Linked DNA regions of Homo sapiens. The protein of the gene in region 4 interacts with the protein of the main gene of each other region in a biochemical or structural test. Each region holds a gene or a part of one and is shown on either strand. Other genes may lie near its edges.

The links. Proteins that work in one complex are often made in the same cells at the same time.
Region 1: the proteins of LNX2 (region 4) and AGMAT interact in a test that uses a peptide from one of them, tested with the Homo sapiens proteins (one large-scale study listed by IntAct).
Region 2: the proteins of LNX2 (region 4) and NET1 interact in a test that uses a peptide from one of them, tested with the Homo sapiens proteins (one large-scale study listed by IntAct).
Region 3: the proteins of LNX2 (region 4) and SEMA4F interact in a test that uses a peptide from one of them, tested with the Homo sapiens proteins (one large-scale study listed by IntAct).

What each region holds. Positions count from the first base shown.
Region 1 is NC_000001.11:15,575,052-15,578,551, forward strand, and holds part of AGMAT (guanidino acid hydrolase, mitochondrial precursor), read right to left. Parts: intron 2,814-3,500; coding exon 2,634-2,813; intron 1-2,633. UniProt on the Homo sapiens protein: Hydrolyzes linear guanidino acids to form urea and the corresponding amines. Displays specificity for substrates having a negatively charged head group and short chains including taurocyamine, guanidino propanoic and butanoic acids.
Region 2 is NC_000010.11:5,422,557-5,426,056, forward strand, and holds part of NET1 (neuroepithelial cell-transforming gene 1 protein), read left to right. Parts: intron 1-3,500. UniProt on the Homo sapiens protein: Acts as a guanine nucleotide exchange factor (GEF) for RhoA GTPase. May be involved in activation of the SAPK/JNK pathway Stimulates genotoxic stress-induced RHOB activity in breast cancer cells leading to their cell death.
Region 3 is NC_000002.12:74,674,747-74,678,246, forward strand, and holds part of SEMA4F (semaphorin-4F isoform 1 precursor), read left to right. Parts: intron 1-141; coding exon 142-289; intron 290-415; coding exon 416-638; intron 639-778; coding exon 779-888; intron 889-1,002; coding exon 1,003-1,163; intron 1,164-3,500. UniProt on the Homo sapiens protein: Probable cell surface receptor that regulates oligodendroglial precursor cell migration. Might also regulate differentiation of oligodendroglial precursor cells. Has growth cone collapse activity against retinal ganglion-cell axons.
Region 4 is NC_000013.11:27,579,030-27,582,529, reverse strand, and holds part of LNX2 (ligand of Numb protein X 2), read left to right. Parts: intron 1-726; 5' UTR 727-826; coding exon 827-1,233; intron 1,234-3,500.

The DNA of each region.
Region 1 (3,500 bases), on a different chromosome or scaffold from region 4:
GATGGAGACAAGGAAACCAATCGTTTCAATGTCATGCACCAAGGGCTTCAAGGAAAGCAAGCCCAGAATGGTATCAGCATAGGTAATAGCCTGGAGAGGTGGGTAAGGCTTCCCCAAGGTGGAAATACCCAGTTCAAGGGATAGGCCAGGCAGAGGGAAAAACACAGGCAAAGGCACCAAGATGGGAAAAGTTCAGGTAGTAAGATGTGGCCAGAAGACAGAGTAAGTGAGGGAGACTGATGGGAAGAGAGTGACCTTGTCTGAAAGGGTTCCCATCCTGCAGGTGAAAAGCCCAGAAGGTTGCTAAGCAGAGGGATGAGGAATGTGTTTCAGAAATCCCTCATGAGAAGAGAGGATGGTTACAGCCATTTCAAGAGAGAGAGTTATGGCCACCCTCCTTTAAGATCTTAGAGGATGTAAGGTACTTGATTAGGTTTAAGCAGTCTTCATTCATTTACTCTCAAATGTCTTTGAGTGCCTACTATTTGTATTAGGCACTGTCCTAGGCTCCAAGGACAAGGTAGGGAACAATACATAGGTCCTGCCCTTGGGGAGATTCTAGTCATAACCATTCTGCCCCCGTGCATTTACTCCCAGCACACATTATTGGAGCTTTATTTGGGTGTTTCTAAAACTCTTGAGCTTACCTTGGCAGGTAATTGTGCCATCACATGCACTTTTATTTATTTATTTATTTATTTATTTATTTATTTATTTATTTTTGAGACAGGGTCTCTGTCACCCGGGCTATAGTGCAGTGGTATGATCACGGCTCACTGAAGGCTTGACCTGCCAGGCTCAGTTGATCCTCCTGCCCCAGCCTCCCTAGTAGCTGGGACTACAGGTGCACACTAGCACACCAGACTAATTTTTATTTTTATTTTTAGTAAAGATGGGATCTCACTATGTTGCCCAGGCTGGGCTGAAACTCCTGGGCTCAAACGATCCATCCACCCTGGCCTCCCAAAGTGCTGAGGATAGTGCCTGAGCCACCGCGCCTGGCCCGTTGTATGCACTTTTATTTAAATTTAACCCTAAAAAGATAAGTTTAGTGTTTTTGTTTGTTTTGAGATGGAGTTTCACTCTTGTTGCCCAGACTGGAGTGCAATATCATGATCTCGGCTCACCACAACCTCAGCCTCCCAGGTTCAAGTGATTCCCCTGCCTCAGCCTCCCGAGTAGCTGGGATTACAGGCATGCGCCACCATGCCCGGCTAATTTTGTATTTTTAGTAGAAATGGGGTTTCTCCATGTTAGGCTGGTCTCAAACTCCCTACCTCAGGTGAACCACCCGCCTGATGCCTTGGCCTCCCAAAGTGCTGGGATTACAGGTGTGAGCCACTGCGCCCGGCCAAGTTTAGTGTTTTTGTTTGGTTGGTTGGTTGGTTTTTTTTTTGAGGTGGAGTCTTGCTCTGTTGCCCAGGCTGGAGTACAGTGGCACGATCTCAGCTCACTGCAACCTCCGCCTCCAGGGTTCAAGCAATTCTCCTGCCTCAGCCTCCCAAGTAGCTGGGATTACAGACGCCTGCCACCGTGCCGGGCTGATTTTTGTACTTTTAGTAGAGACAGGGTTTCACCATCTTGGCTAGGCTGGTCTCGAACTCCTGACCTTGTGATCCACCCGCCTCGGCCTCCCAGAGTGCTGGGATTCCAGGCGTGAGCCACGACACCTGGCCAAGTTTAGTGTTCTTTTTTTTTTTTTTTTTTTTTTTTTTTGAGATGGAGTTTCACTCTTTCGCCCAGGCCAGACTGCAGTGGTTCTATCTCGGCTCACTGCAAGCTCTGCCTCCCGGGTTCATGCCATTCTCCTGCCTCAGCCTCCTGAGTAGCTGAGATTACAGGCACCCGCCACCGCGCCCGGCTAATTTTTTTGTATTTTTAGTAGAGACGGAGTTTCACCGTGTTAGCCAAGATGGTCTCGATCTCCTGACCTCGTGATCCACCCACCTCAGCCTCCCAAAGTGCTGGGATTATAGACGTGAGCCACCGTGCCCGGCCAAGTTTAGTGTTCTTAAGAGAGGATACTATAATGTTGTTCCTATGAACTGTTGTTTTCATGACAGATGAACTGAAGGCAGGAAGAGCAAATAAAGGACAAAATAAGGGACTATTATATCCCAGATAGGAAATGAAGGCCCTTGCCAAAATCAATCACCCTTCAGTAAGAGGGTATTCAAACTTATCCTCAGCCCAGAGAACAGAAAAGGCCTAGGTGCTCTGCTCTTAAAATCCTACCTTGGCAGCCAGGCGCGGTGGCTGACACCCGTAATCCCAGCACTTTGGGAAGCCGAGGTGAGTGGATCACGAGATCAGGAGTTCAAGACCAGCCTGACCAACATGGTGAAACCCCATCTCTACTAAAAATACAAAAATTAGCCGGGCGTAGTGGCATGTGCCTGTAATCTCAGCTACTCAGGAGGCTGAGGCAGGAGAATCGCTTGAACCTGGGAGGCGGAGGTTGCAGTGAGCCGAGATCGCACCACTGCACTCCAGCCTGGGCGACAGAGTGAGACTCCGTCTCAAACAAACAAACAAAAATCCTATCCTGATTCCTAAAGATTCGCTTCAAGTCCCAGGAAAATGGGTGTTAAGTGTCTCCACCCCCAGGATCTTCACTGGTGGAATCTCCTTACCTGACTAGGAGTGAGACCAGCAATTTCAGGTGTCCCTGTCCCTGGCGCATAGGCAGGATCCAGAGCGTCAATATCAAAGCTGATATAAATGGGTTTGCCTCCCATCTGCTGCCTGACTTCCCCCATCAGAGGAACCAGCGACTTCATCCAGCAGTCTTCAGCCAGGACTACCCGGAAGCCCTGCAGAGACAGGGACTGAGGTTTCTGTCTGGCAGCATTTACAGGGCATTTCCTGTTTGCCAGCCCCATGCTCAGCTCTGTGTGCACATGACACTTGACCCTCCATCTCCATGAAGAGGGAACTATCCTATTTTACAGGTGAGGAAGGGAGGGACAATGAGTGGTAAGGAAGCAGGGTCAAAGCTGACTGATGGAGTTGGAATCAGAGAGAAGCTTTGCTAAAGCAAGAGTGGGAAACAGCAGCTCACGCTAGCACCTTTTGAATTGCTCTGTCCAGAAGACTGGCCTTGGCACGCTCTAAAAGCAAGGGATTTGGGTCTGTTCCATTGGGGTCTTGTCATACACGTCTATCTGAGAGCCATTCTGCCTAGAGGGTACGAGGACCAGAACTAAGAAGGTGGCAACTCATCTTGGGTCCGGACTTCCTCCCCTCTTTTTTTTTTCTTTTGAGATGGAGTCTCACTTTGTCACCTAGGCTAGAGTGCAGTGGCGCGATCTCAGCTCACTGCAACCTCCACCTCCCACGTTCAAGCAATTCTCCTGCCTCAGTCTCCCGAGTAGCTGGGATTACAGGTGCGCACCGCCACACCTGGCTAATTTTTGTATTTTTAGGAGAGACGGGGTTTCACCATGTTGGCCAGGCTGGTCTCGAACTCCTGACCTCAGGTGATCCACCCACCTTAGCCT
Region 2 (3,500 bases), on a different chromosome or scaffold from region 4:
GAATTTGCTGCTGTGGGCAAGGCCTGAGAATTAATGCAGGACATTAGGATGTCTGGGGTGCTTTGGGGGTGGTGTTTGCTGGTTTCTAGATGCTCAACTGTGTTCTAGACAAGATATTCCAAGATGTATGTATTAGTTGAGACTCTCATGCAGATGAGAAAACCCTAGTATGATAGGAGACATAGTCTACATGATTGTCAGAAGTGGAAGAAGAGACAACTCCTTAATAGCAAAGATGCTGAACAGCCAAAACAGTAGTGGATGTCTACTACATCAGATATTTGACCCAAATAAATGAATTGTTTCTATAATAATTTAGTTTGTTTTTGCCTGATTTGCAAAGAAATTGAGAACCTCAGTTGCTTGGCACACCCCAAATGTAAAAAGTGTTAACTGCAGAGGATAAATTATACCATTCTTTTTACATGTATGGTATAATTCTTTTTATATGTTTGGCATTTACAGATTACATTTTTTATTTAATTGGAAAAAATGTTATTTTTAGGATAAGAGTATATGTACAGTGCTTGTCACATAGTAGGCACCCAATAAATGATAACATTATCCTTTTTAAAATCTTTTTCTGAAACTCGTTTTCATTCTACATCCATTTTTTATGGTGAATGCATCTTGAGGGTAAATTATGCTTTTAAGAATGCTTTTTTCCTGTTGGTAATAGTAATTTTCAATACGTTTTTTGAAAATATTTATAATTTCAGGTCAGGTCTTATCTGGCATGATGGAGGAGGTGGTGACACAAATCAGAAACTCTGAAAACATAATTTGGCTTAAGAATGAATTAACAAGATGCTTTTCTTTTGAACAGCAGCTTTATCATTTTAATTATGATTTCTTTAGACTAAACCTAATTTAGTGTAAATACATTGTTCAAAAACATACCAAATGATATGAAAGGAAAACATTAAAGGCCAAGGAAAATCTACAGGAGTCAAATCGGGAACTTAATTTAATACACTAAGCTAATTCCTTAATGTATTAGTTTATTTTATTCCTTAAATGTTGTAATTATTTGGATATATAGAAAAATACATTGGATATATGGACAAAAATTCTTGAAAAGGTGGACTGCCACTTTTCGCTCTACATTTCATCCTTTAAGCCCTCCTTTTTAGGAGGTTATTCTGTGTATCCTCTGGAAAAATAACTTGCAATCTTAATGTTTTATGAAATCATTTTTTTCCCCACAAGGATTTAAAATAGCTATTACATTTTGAGTCTGACGCTTGTGAAAAAATGAGTATATGTCTTTCCAAGATTTGTGAAAGTTGGCACTGTCTCACATCCTTTGTGGGCACGGTTTGTTTTTTGGGTTCCTTTTTTCCATGGGTATTCAAAATAAATAGAATCTTGTTATTGAAGTGGGAAAAAATAGCATTACTGTAAAGCTGGTTACAGATACTGCTGGAAAGAATTTTATCATATGATTGGAAATATTTTTCCAGTTAACCTTTTAAAAATTCTTAAGAACCATTTTTCTTTCCAGCTTTTAGATGCCAAATGCATTCTGAGGTTAGTGTGGTCATTTCTAGGGAATAAAGAAATTAGTAGCTTTGGTTTTGTAATGCTCCCTAATACTTAAACCTGAAAGGAAGTATTTACTGAATATTTTAAGTGCCACAGTTAATGCCACTTTGTAATGTAGATTTGTATTAGATTTAAAATAACCTGAGACATCATAATTGTTTTTTCTTAAGCCAGTGCCCACTGATGGCTCCTGCTAACCATGTAGCATACAGTAGCACCTAATACACTAAGAGTATTAATTCCTAGAGCAGTATTTTTAAGTGTGATCTGTGGACTCATGACAGAGAGGTCCTGTCTTTCCATAATATTTTACCATTTGTTTATGATAGTAATCCTATGTATTTCTTGATACAAATTATAATTTATTTCAGATGACTTTTTTTGTTTAAATACTTTGTTCCAGGGTTTTCTCAAGAAAAAAATACCATTTTCTTTGTTGATGCTTGACTTTTCTGCAGTAGCAAGAAAAGATGGAATAATCAGCTTCTTAGATTGTTTTGCGCCACTAAAGAGGCCGTCAAAAATAGTTTGAGCTCCATGAGTAGTCTTCCTGTGTTTTGATCTTCTCCAAATAATTATTTAGGAAATGTTTGTTTTAAATATCTTAAGATCTTTGCATCTAATTTCTGTTAGTGGCATCATATTTTCCCCAGGTCAAGAACCTTGGTAATAACTGAACAGGTTTAGGGAGGAAAAGGGGAAAGTCTTTCCTGGCAATTTTGACATCGAACCGTCTCTCAAATCAGCTTCTCCTCTCTAATCTTGTTACTGCTGCCAGAGCCCCAGTCATCTTTTGTAAGCAATATTAGAGCTGCCTCCCAACTGAGCAGTCTTGCCTTCTTACAATCTATTGTTCACGTTACTTAAGATTCAATGGCTGCCACACATACTCAAGATCAAGGCCATTCTCTCTGAGTGCAGTAAGTGAGGCCTTTCATGATGCTTTAGCCCGTCCTTATTTCTTTACTCAAATGTGAGGAACTACTTGCAGTTTCCAGAATGTAACTCATTTCACTCCACCTTAATGCTTTGTTAATTGCTATTTTTCTTTCAGATTCAGTAATACTTTGTATTACTTAAGTATTAATTCATCTGTGAAGCTTTCCAGACCTCCTCTTTTACCTTATAGCCAGTTTCCTTTGTGTTCCTTGTCGGAAAAAAAACAAAAACAACAACAACAACAAAATTTCTCCTTCATATTTAGCTTAGAAAACTCCAGAAGCCCTTGATTTGGTTTAAGCTTGTACATTTTTGCAGGAAAGACACTCATCAGTGGTGTTTCTATAACTTGATGAACAACGACTATGAAGCTTAAGGATCACATGTATAAACAGACAATGACTTCACAGTCCAAGAAGCCAAATAACTACCATAACAATTGACCTAAAATGTCCAGGACTTCATTAATAACTGCCAGCTTCCTAATTTTTGTCACACTTCCAATTCATAACCAACCTGTGAAAGCCAGATATACCCCTAACCAATCACAGTAGGATGCCTCCACTTCTAGTTAGCCTGCCTACAGCTCCACAGGCCAACAGCCTCCATCAGGCCATACCTGAGCCTTCTCTTTTTTCCATTATGAAACTTCACACTCGTCTACCTGTCTTTTAGTCTCTGTCAAGATGCAAATGACGATAGATGACTCCCTTGTTGTAGCAAGCACTGAATAAATACCCTTTGCTTTTCTCTTTTGGTTGATCTTCATTTATTTCCACAAGGAAAAAAATAATGTGTTCATTCTACATTTGTTTACATCTGAAGTAATTAATAATAAATACACTTTATAAACTGCCTTTATCTCTTGTGCTAGCTATGTTTTTGTAATTTCTACATATTTTATAAACACAGAGGTTTATACTTTATAAACATATGGCGGCTTATATTTTAGAAAGGTGAAGACAGGTTTTGTCATAAGACTTTCTTGCTTTATGTGTTTACATTGAATGGAAAAG
Region 3 (3,500 bases), on a different chromosome or scaffold from region 4:
TCTCTTCCAGAGGGGGCAGGCTCTCCCGCCTTTGGCTGCATGGCTCCCTGTGCGTTTCTCGGGGGTCATCTCATTTGACAAGGGATGAGTTGCTATCCCCCAGACCCCTCCATATATCCAGCTCCAACCTGTGAATTCCAGGGAGGGGGCTACTATCTCTGCTGTCTGTGCCTTCCGACCACAAGACATTCGGACAGTGCTGAATGGTCCCTTCAGAGAACTAAAACATGACTGCAACAGAGGACTGCCTGTCGTGGACAATGATGTGCCCCAGCCCAGACCTGGAGAGGTGAGGGGGCAGATCTTCATTCTAGGCCTGAAGTCAAGAGCTGCTATTAAGGCAAGAGCCCCACTAAGCATCACTGGCATGTCCTGTTCCTGGGAAACTTTGTCACCAGCCCTGTATTTCCTCTAGTGCATCACCAACAACATGAAGCTCCGGCACTTTGGCTCATCTCTCTCCCTGCCTGACCGCGTACTCACCTTCATCCGGGACCACCCACTCATGGACAGGCCAGTGTTTCCAGCTGATGGCCACCCCCTGCTGGTCACTACAGATACAGCCTATCTCAGAGTCGTGGCCCACAGGGTGACCAGCCTCTCAGGGAAAGAGTATGATGTGCTCTACCTGGGGACAGGTATATTTAATGGTCAAGCAGGCTGCCTACCTAGTGCATACACATTCTCGTCACAGAGAGGGTACTGTAATACATATAGGTCTGAGTCCCAGGCACAGGGGCAATTATGTAATTATTCTTGTTCCTTTCCTGTCCCCTAGAGGATGGACACCTCCACCGAGCAGTGCGGATCGGAGCTCAGCTCAGCGTTCTTGAAGATCTGGCCTTATTCCCAGAGCCACAGCCAGTTGAGAACATGAAATTGTACCACGTGAGTTGTAGATTTTGGAGAGTCTATTGGGGAGACATCTGAGTCCAGAGCCAGTTTGTGACCCTGAGGTCTGGGAGATCCAGTGTATTCCCCTTCCCCACTCCGTTTTTATAGAGCTGGCTCCTGGTTGGCTCCCGTACTGAGGTGACACAAGTGAATACAACCAACTGTGGCCGTCTCCAGAGCTGCTCAGAGTGCATCCTGGCCCAGGACCCAGTCTGTGCCTGGAGCTTCCGGCTGGATGAGTGTGTGGCCCATGCCGGGGAGCACCGAGGGTGAGTGTAGCTGCCTGGATTTCTTGCTTACTGTGCCAGGGCTCTGTCCCATCCATATGTCTACGTTTCTCATCTGTTAATGCTGCCCTGCCGGAGGCTGTTTTCTTTTTCTGTCTGTTAGTGTCTACATCACTCGTGTGTCCTTCTGTCAGTCCATACTAGCTCATCTGTTTGTCCATCTAGTGCTACCTCATCAATGTCCTTGCCTCTCTGCTGGACCTGCCTTGACCTGACAGTGTGCCATCTCTAGTGGATGCTGCTTAGTTTTCATCTTACAAGAGCTCTTGGAAGTGTTTTCACAGTTGTCCACTCCCTCTTTCCTTGAAATACTTTCCTCTTGCTCTCTATGACTGCATTCTTTGGTCTCCTTTACTTTCCCATCCAACAACTGAATGTTGATATTCCTCAGGGTTCAGTCCTGGACCCATTCTCTTCACACGTTCATGCACTCTCTAGGCAGTTTCATTCTGGTTACTTTCAATACCATCTGAGTGCTAATGACAACCACAAATATATCTAGTTGAGCTGTGGAACTCCCCATCCGACTGTCTACTTGATATTCCCTTGGATGCTTCATAAGCAACTCAAACTTAGCAAGTCAAAGTATGCACTGTTGTTTCCTCTTTCTCTCACATGCTCCTCCTCTGGTCTTCCTCATTCCAGTAAAGGGACCTCCATGCATCCAGTTGCTCAAGCCAGAAATTGCCCACATCGTATTATGATTTGTACTGATTCTAGCACCCAAATGTCCTTAGTCCACCCTCTTCTGTCCACCTCTACCACTACCACTCTAGTCCAAGCCATCATCGCTTCTTAACTGGACTACTCTAATAACCTAATTGGTCTTTTTTTGACCATTTTGGGCTCCTACCATCCATTTTCCATTTAGCAGCTTAAAAGCATATGTCACGTTGAAGCAAATCCCTGACATTATATCATATTCATCTTAAATATTTCAATATGTATCTCTACTAGATAAGGAGTTTTTTGTTTGTTTGTTTGTTGTTTTTGAGATGGAGTCTCACTCTGTCGCCCAGGCTGGGGTACAGTGACGCCATCTCGGCTCACTGCAACCTCTGCCTCCCTTATTCAAGCGATTCTCCTGCCTCAGCCTCCCGAATAGCTGGGATTACAGGTGCCCGCCACCATGCCCGGCTGATTTTTGTATTTTTGGTAGAGACGGGGTTTCACTACGTTGGCCAGGCTGGTCTGGAACTCCTGACCTCAAGCAATCCACTTGCCTTGGCCTCCCAAAGTGCTGGGATTACAGGTGTGAGCCACTGCGCCCAGCCCAGGACTCTTAAAAACATTTTATTGTGGGAAAGTTCAATCATATCCAAAAGTAGAGAGAATTGTATAATGAATTTCCATGCATCCATCCCTCAGCTTCAACAACCATCAGCTCCTGGTCAATCTTGCCTCATCAGTACGTTTACTCATTCCCAACTACTTTGATGCAAATCCTGGACATCATTTCACTTCATCCATAAATCTTTCTGTCCGTATCTCTAACATACAAGGGCTTTAAAAAAAAACCATATTACCATTATCATACCAAAAACTTACTTTCTTAATGTCATCAAATATCCAGTCAGTGTTCTGATTTCTTCAATTGCATATATTTTAAAAAGTTTATGTCAGTATCCAAATAATGCTTATTAATTGTAATTGGTTGATATGTTTCTTAAGTGTATTTTAATTGTTGAGATCTTCCAGTAAAGTATTTTTAATCACTTGATTCGAAAGTGTTTTTGCAAACTGACCTTGAGATTTCCTATTTTGAAGTCCAGTTAATTTATAGCATATTTGTATACTACAGAACCTCAAGTATATACAAAATCCAGAATATTACAAAACCCCATGGCTACAAATTCTGTAGAGGTAAAAGTACTTGTCTTTTGGAATAAAACAGATTAATTCACACATGTCAAAACAGAGTGAAATGTTTAAAATGGTAACTGATCTGTAGGGCTAGATATGAAAGAAAAAACTGGCATATAATTAGAATAGTCATAACATTTAATTTTGTTTTTCTGATATTTGTCATGAATTATAAGTGTAAAATCTTATGCCGTCTCTTGATCAGATTCTTGACTTTTTGCCAGTTGGGGATATAAAGTAACTCTTGGATGACAGGCTTGGCCAGCTTTGCATTTTTGGTTAAGAACTTTAACCTGGTCTTTTAGTTTTTTGGGGGAGAACTTTTAAACATCTAAGAGAAAAGCAAGGGCTTTATTCTGTCCTTTATTGTTTTAATTTCCATTAAAATAAGAATTCACTGGTCTTAGATATCCTCTATACTTGAGCCTCAAGGATTCCCTTAAGGTATACATGAGT
Region 4 (3,500 bases):
GATGACATGCAAATGTATTATATACCTCAAACAGCATTACTATTAGCACAATTAATTGGCTTTAAAACTACCATTGAACAGTGACATATTTGGGGATTTCAGTCAGTAAAACAAATCGATTGTTTCTTATGTCACACTATATAATCTATGGTGTCTTTACCTTTCATCAAAAGTTGTTTTTTTATCAAGAACTTGACAGTGGGAGCCAGGCACGGTGGCTCACACCTGTAATCCTAGCACTTTGGGAGGGCTGATTGCTTGAGTCCAGGAGTTCAAGACCACCCTGGGCTTTCCACCATGGAAACCCTGTCTCTACAAAAAAATACAAAAAAATTAACAGGACATGGTGGCGTGCACCTGTAGTACCAGCTACTCGGGAGGCTGAGATGGGAGAGTCACTTGAGCCTGGAAGGCAGAGGTTGCAGTGAGCTGAGATTGCACCACTGCACTCCAGCCTGGGTGACAGAGCAAGACCCTGACTCAAAAAGCAAATAAATAAAAAAATCAAAAGAGACAATTAAAACTTATAATAAAAAAGAACTTGGCAGTGTAAGTCCTTCTTAGCCAACTAGAAAATTAATTTCTTTTTTTATGACTAATTTATTACCTGATTCAACCTTTAATTTTTTACTAAAAAAAGCTAACCAGTAATATTACATTGATACTTTTAACCTATCTTGATTGATATTAATTACCTTTTTTAATGTGTTTGTTTTGCTTATCTAGAAAAACACACCTTGACTTTAGTCAGATACATCACTGTCTGTTAAAGGAAACCAAGCGTGAAGTGGAAGTCTAACACATGAGGATACAGAATTGATTCAAAATGGGAACAACAAGTGATGAGATGGTGTCTGTGGAACAGACCTCCTCCTCTTCTCTAAACCCCCTGTGTTTTGAATGTGGCCAACAGCACTGGACAAGAGAAAACCATTTGTACAATTACCAGAATGAAGTGGATGATGACCTAGTCTGCCATATTTGCCTTCAACCTCTGCTGCAGCCACTAGACACACCCTGTGGACATACATTCTGCTACAAGTGCCTCAGAAACTTTTTACAAGAGAAAGATTTCTGTCCGTTGGACCGGAAAAGACTTCATTTTAAGTTGTGCAAGAAGTCTAGTATTCTAGTTCATAAACTCCTAGACAAATTATTAGTTTTATGTCCATTTTCTTCAGTGTGCAAAGATGTAATGCAACGTTGTGATCTGGAGGCACATCTCAAAAACAGGTAAGCAAAAAATATAAAAGAAGTAACTCCAGATTTTGGAAAAAGGTGGTTCAAATGAACATAAAAACTTGATTAAAACAAAACAAACCAGAGCACTAGTAAGTAAATGGGTGAATCAAGTACAGAAGAGATACAATAAATAAGTTGTATGGAACAGTATTTAACATTATTTATCAAAAACATGAATACAAAAACTACAGTGAGGAAGTACTGTTTTATACCTGTTAATATTTCTGCTGCTGTAATATGAAACTGATATATTCAAATAGATGACAGGATATTATGATAGATTCTTTCTATAAAGCAGTTTGGCAGTTTGTTTTTAAAAACTATATGAATGTAAATCTCCTTTTATCTAGTTTATTATCCTAAGGAAATAATCTAAAAGCAGGAAAAATTGTATGTAAATATGTTCAGTGCAACATTGTGCATAGTTTGGTAAATTGGAATCAGTTATTTAAAAGTAGGGAAGGGTTAAAAAATACTATGCACATAAACTCAGTGGGATATTATGCAGCCAATAAAAACGATAATTTTGTTGCAATATGGAAATAAATACATTATTTTATTTGCTAAGATCTTGTAAAGATTCTGGGTTCAGGGACTAGACTGAACAAGAATTAGGAGTTGGAAAACTAAATATTTAGTGGGGATTTCTGTTCTCATAAAAGCTTTTTAAAAGGTTAAGTAATTTATTTAGCTGATGAGTTTTATAATTTGATTTTGCTAAAAGACTTGATCTTTAACTTAGGAAGAGTTACAGTATACGTCATTTGTGTAGAATCACATAAAATGGCAGAAATAAATACTGGTTTCTAATTTCAAGTTAAGCCAGTTTTACAGTATAAATCTGCAGTAATCTCGATTGCTGTGAAAAACAATGCATACTACATCATACTGGACTTAGATGTAAGAGTGTAAGTCTGATATAGAATGGCTTGCTATTATACTCACACATAAAATCATAGACTTGAAGGAGATTATCTAATCCCCCTCATTTTATGAATAAGGAGACTGAGTCACAAAAATTTAGTTAATGCTGTAGTTAGACTCAAGCTTTACTGTTCTTGTTTACTATTCTAATAAACCATGTTGACTCTATCGTAGGTCAAGTCATGTTCTCTGCTGCTATGTAGCAAAAGTTTCATTCATGTGCACATGAAATACACATTCATTTTGTATCAATATATTGTTGATATTTATTTCTAAACATCAGAGTTAAGACATGAGAAACAATGAAAAAAACAAAGATGTTATTAAAATGTTGGAAACATTTAGATTTATAGAATGCTTAACTCTAAACTGTGTTGTCTAGAACTAGGAGGTAAGATAGAGTAGGATAGACAGACTTTTGAAAATGCGTGTAATAATGTAGCATTGCATTTTTTTATATCTTCTGTAACCAGCAAGCATAGAATCTGAACATGATGGCAGAGGCCTCCTGGAAACTGACACTGGTCTTTTGAATATACTAGTCTGAGTCAGGACTAGTTATGGCTGAAGAATATTTCAGGCTGCTTCTTTCAGTAGAACTGTTCTTTTCAGTGTATAGGCTTCTTTTCTAAACATCAGTTATGAGATGTTAGAGGAACTGAATGAAATGTCAGTTCAGTTATTTATGATTTTGAGAGCTGAAAGATAACAGTTTCACAGATTTTCAGGAATATTCCTTTAACATGCATTCAAGAATTTAATTTGCAGTTGAACTATTACTAGTGTTTCTTATCAAACCATTTATAATGAGAATGTAAAAAACCTTGGTAATTGCAAACTGCCTTTTCATTTACATGTTGGTAAAGGCTTATCCAGTTGAAGGTTTCATTTTCCAGCTGTGCTTATTAGTATTGAAGTAACCAATTTTATCATTTCTAAAGTATCTTAGGCCTGTAACATGAAAGATACAGTGAAAAGATGGATGATTGGAAAAGGTGGTGATTTGCCTGATACAGACAGCTAAGAGTGATTACTGAGTATATAAATGTAAAAAAATTATAAAATGTAATATGATTTTTATATGCCATTTGAACAGATAGTGATGAACAGCCTGACCTTTCTCTGTTCTCTTAAATAAGAACATTGAAATTCAGGTAGAAATGTATATTATACAACATTCAACCCTAAATAATATAGTTCATTTGTTTATTCAGCAAATATTGATTATCTGCTATGTGCCAGATACTTTTCTAGGTGTTAGGTAGTCTCTGCAAGTTAGAATCTAATGCCGGGTTGTAGATTCCTTTAGAAACAGAACCATGTCTTTATAGTCT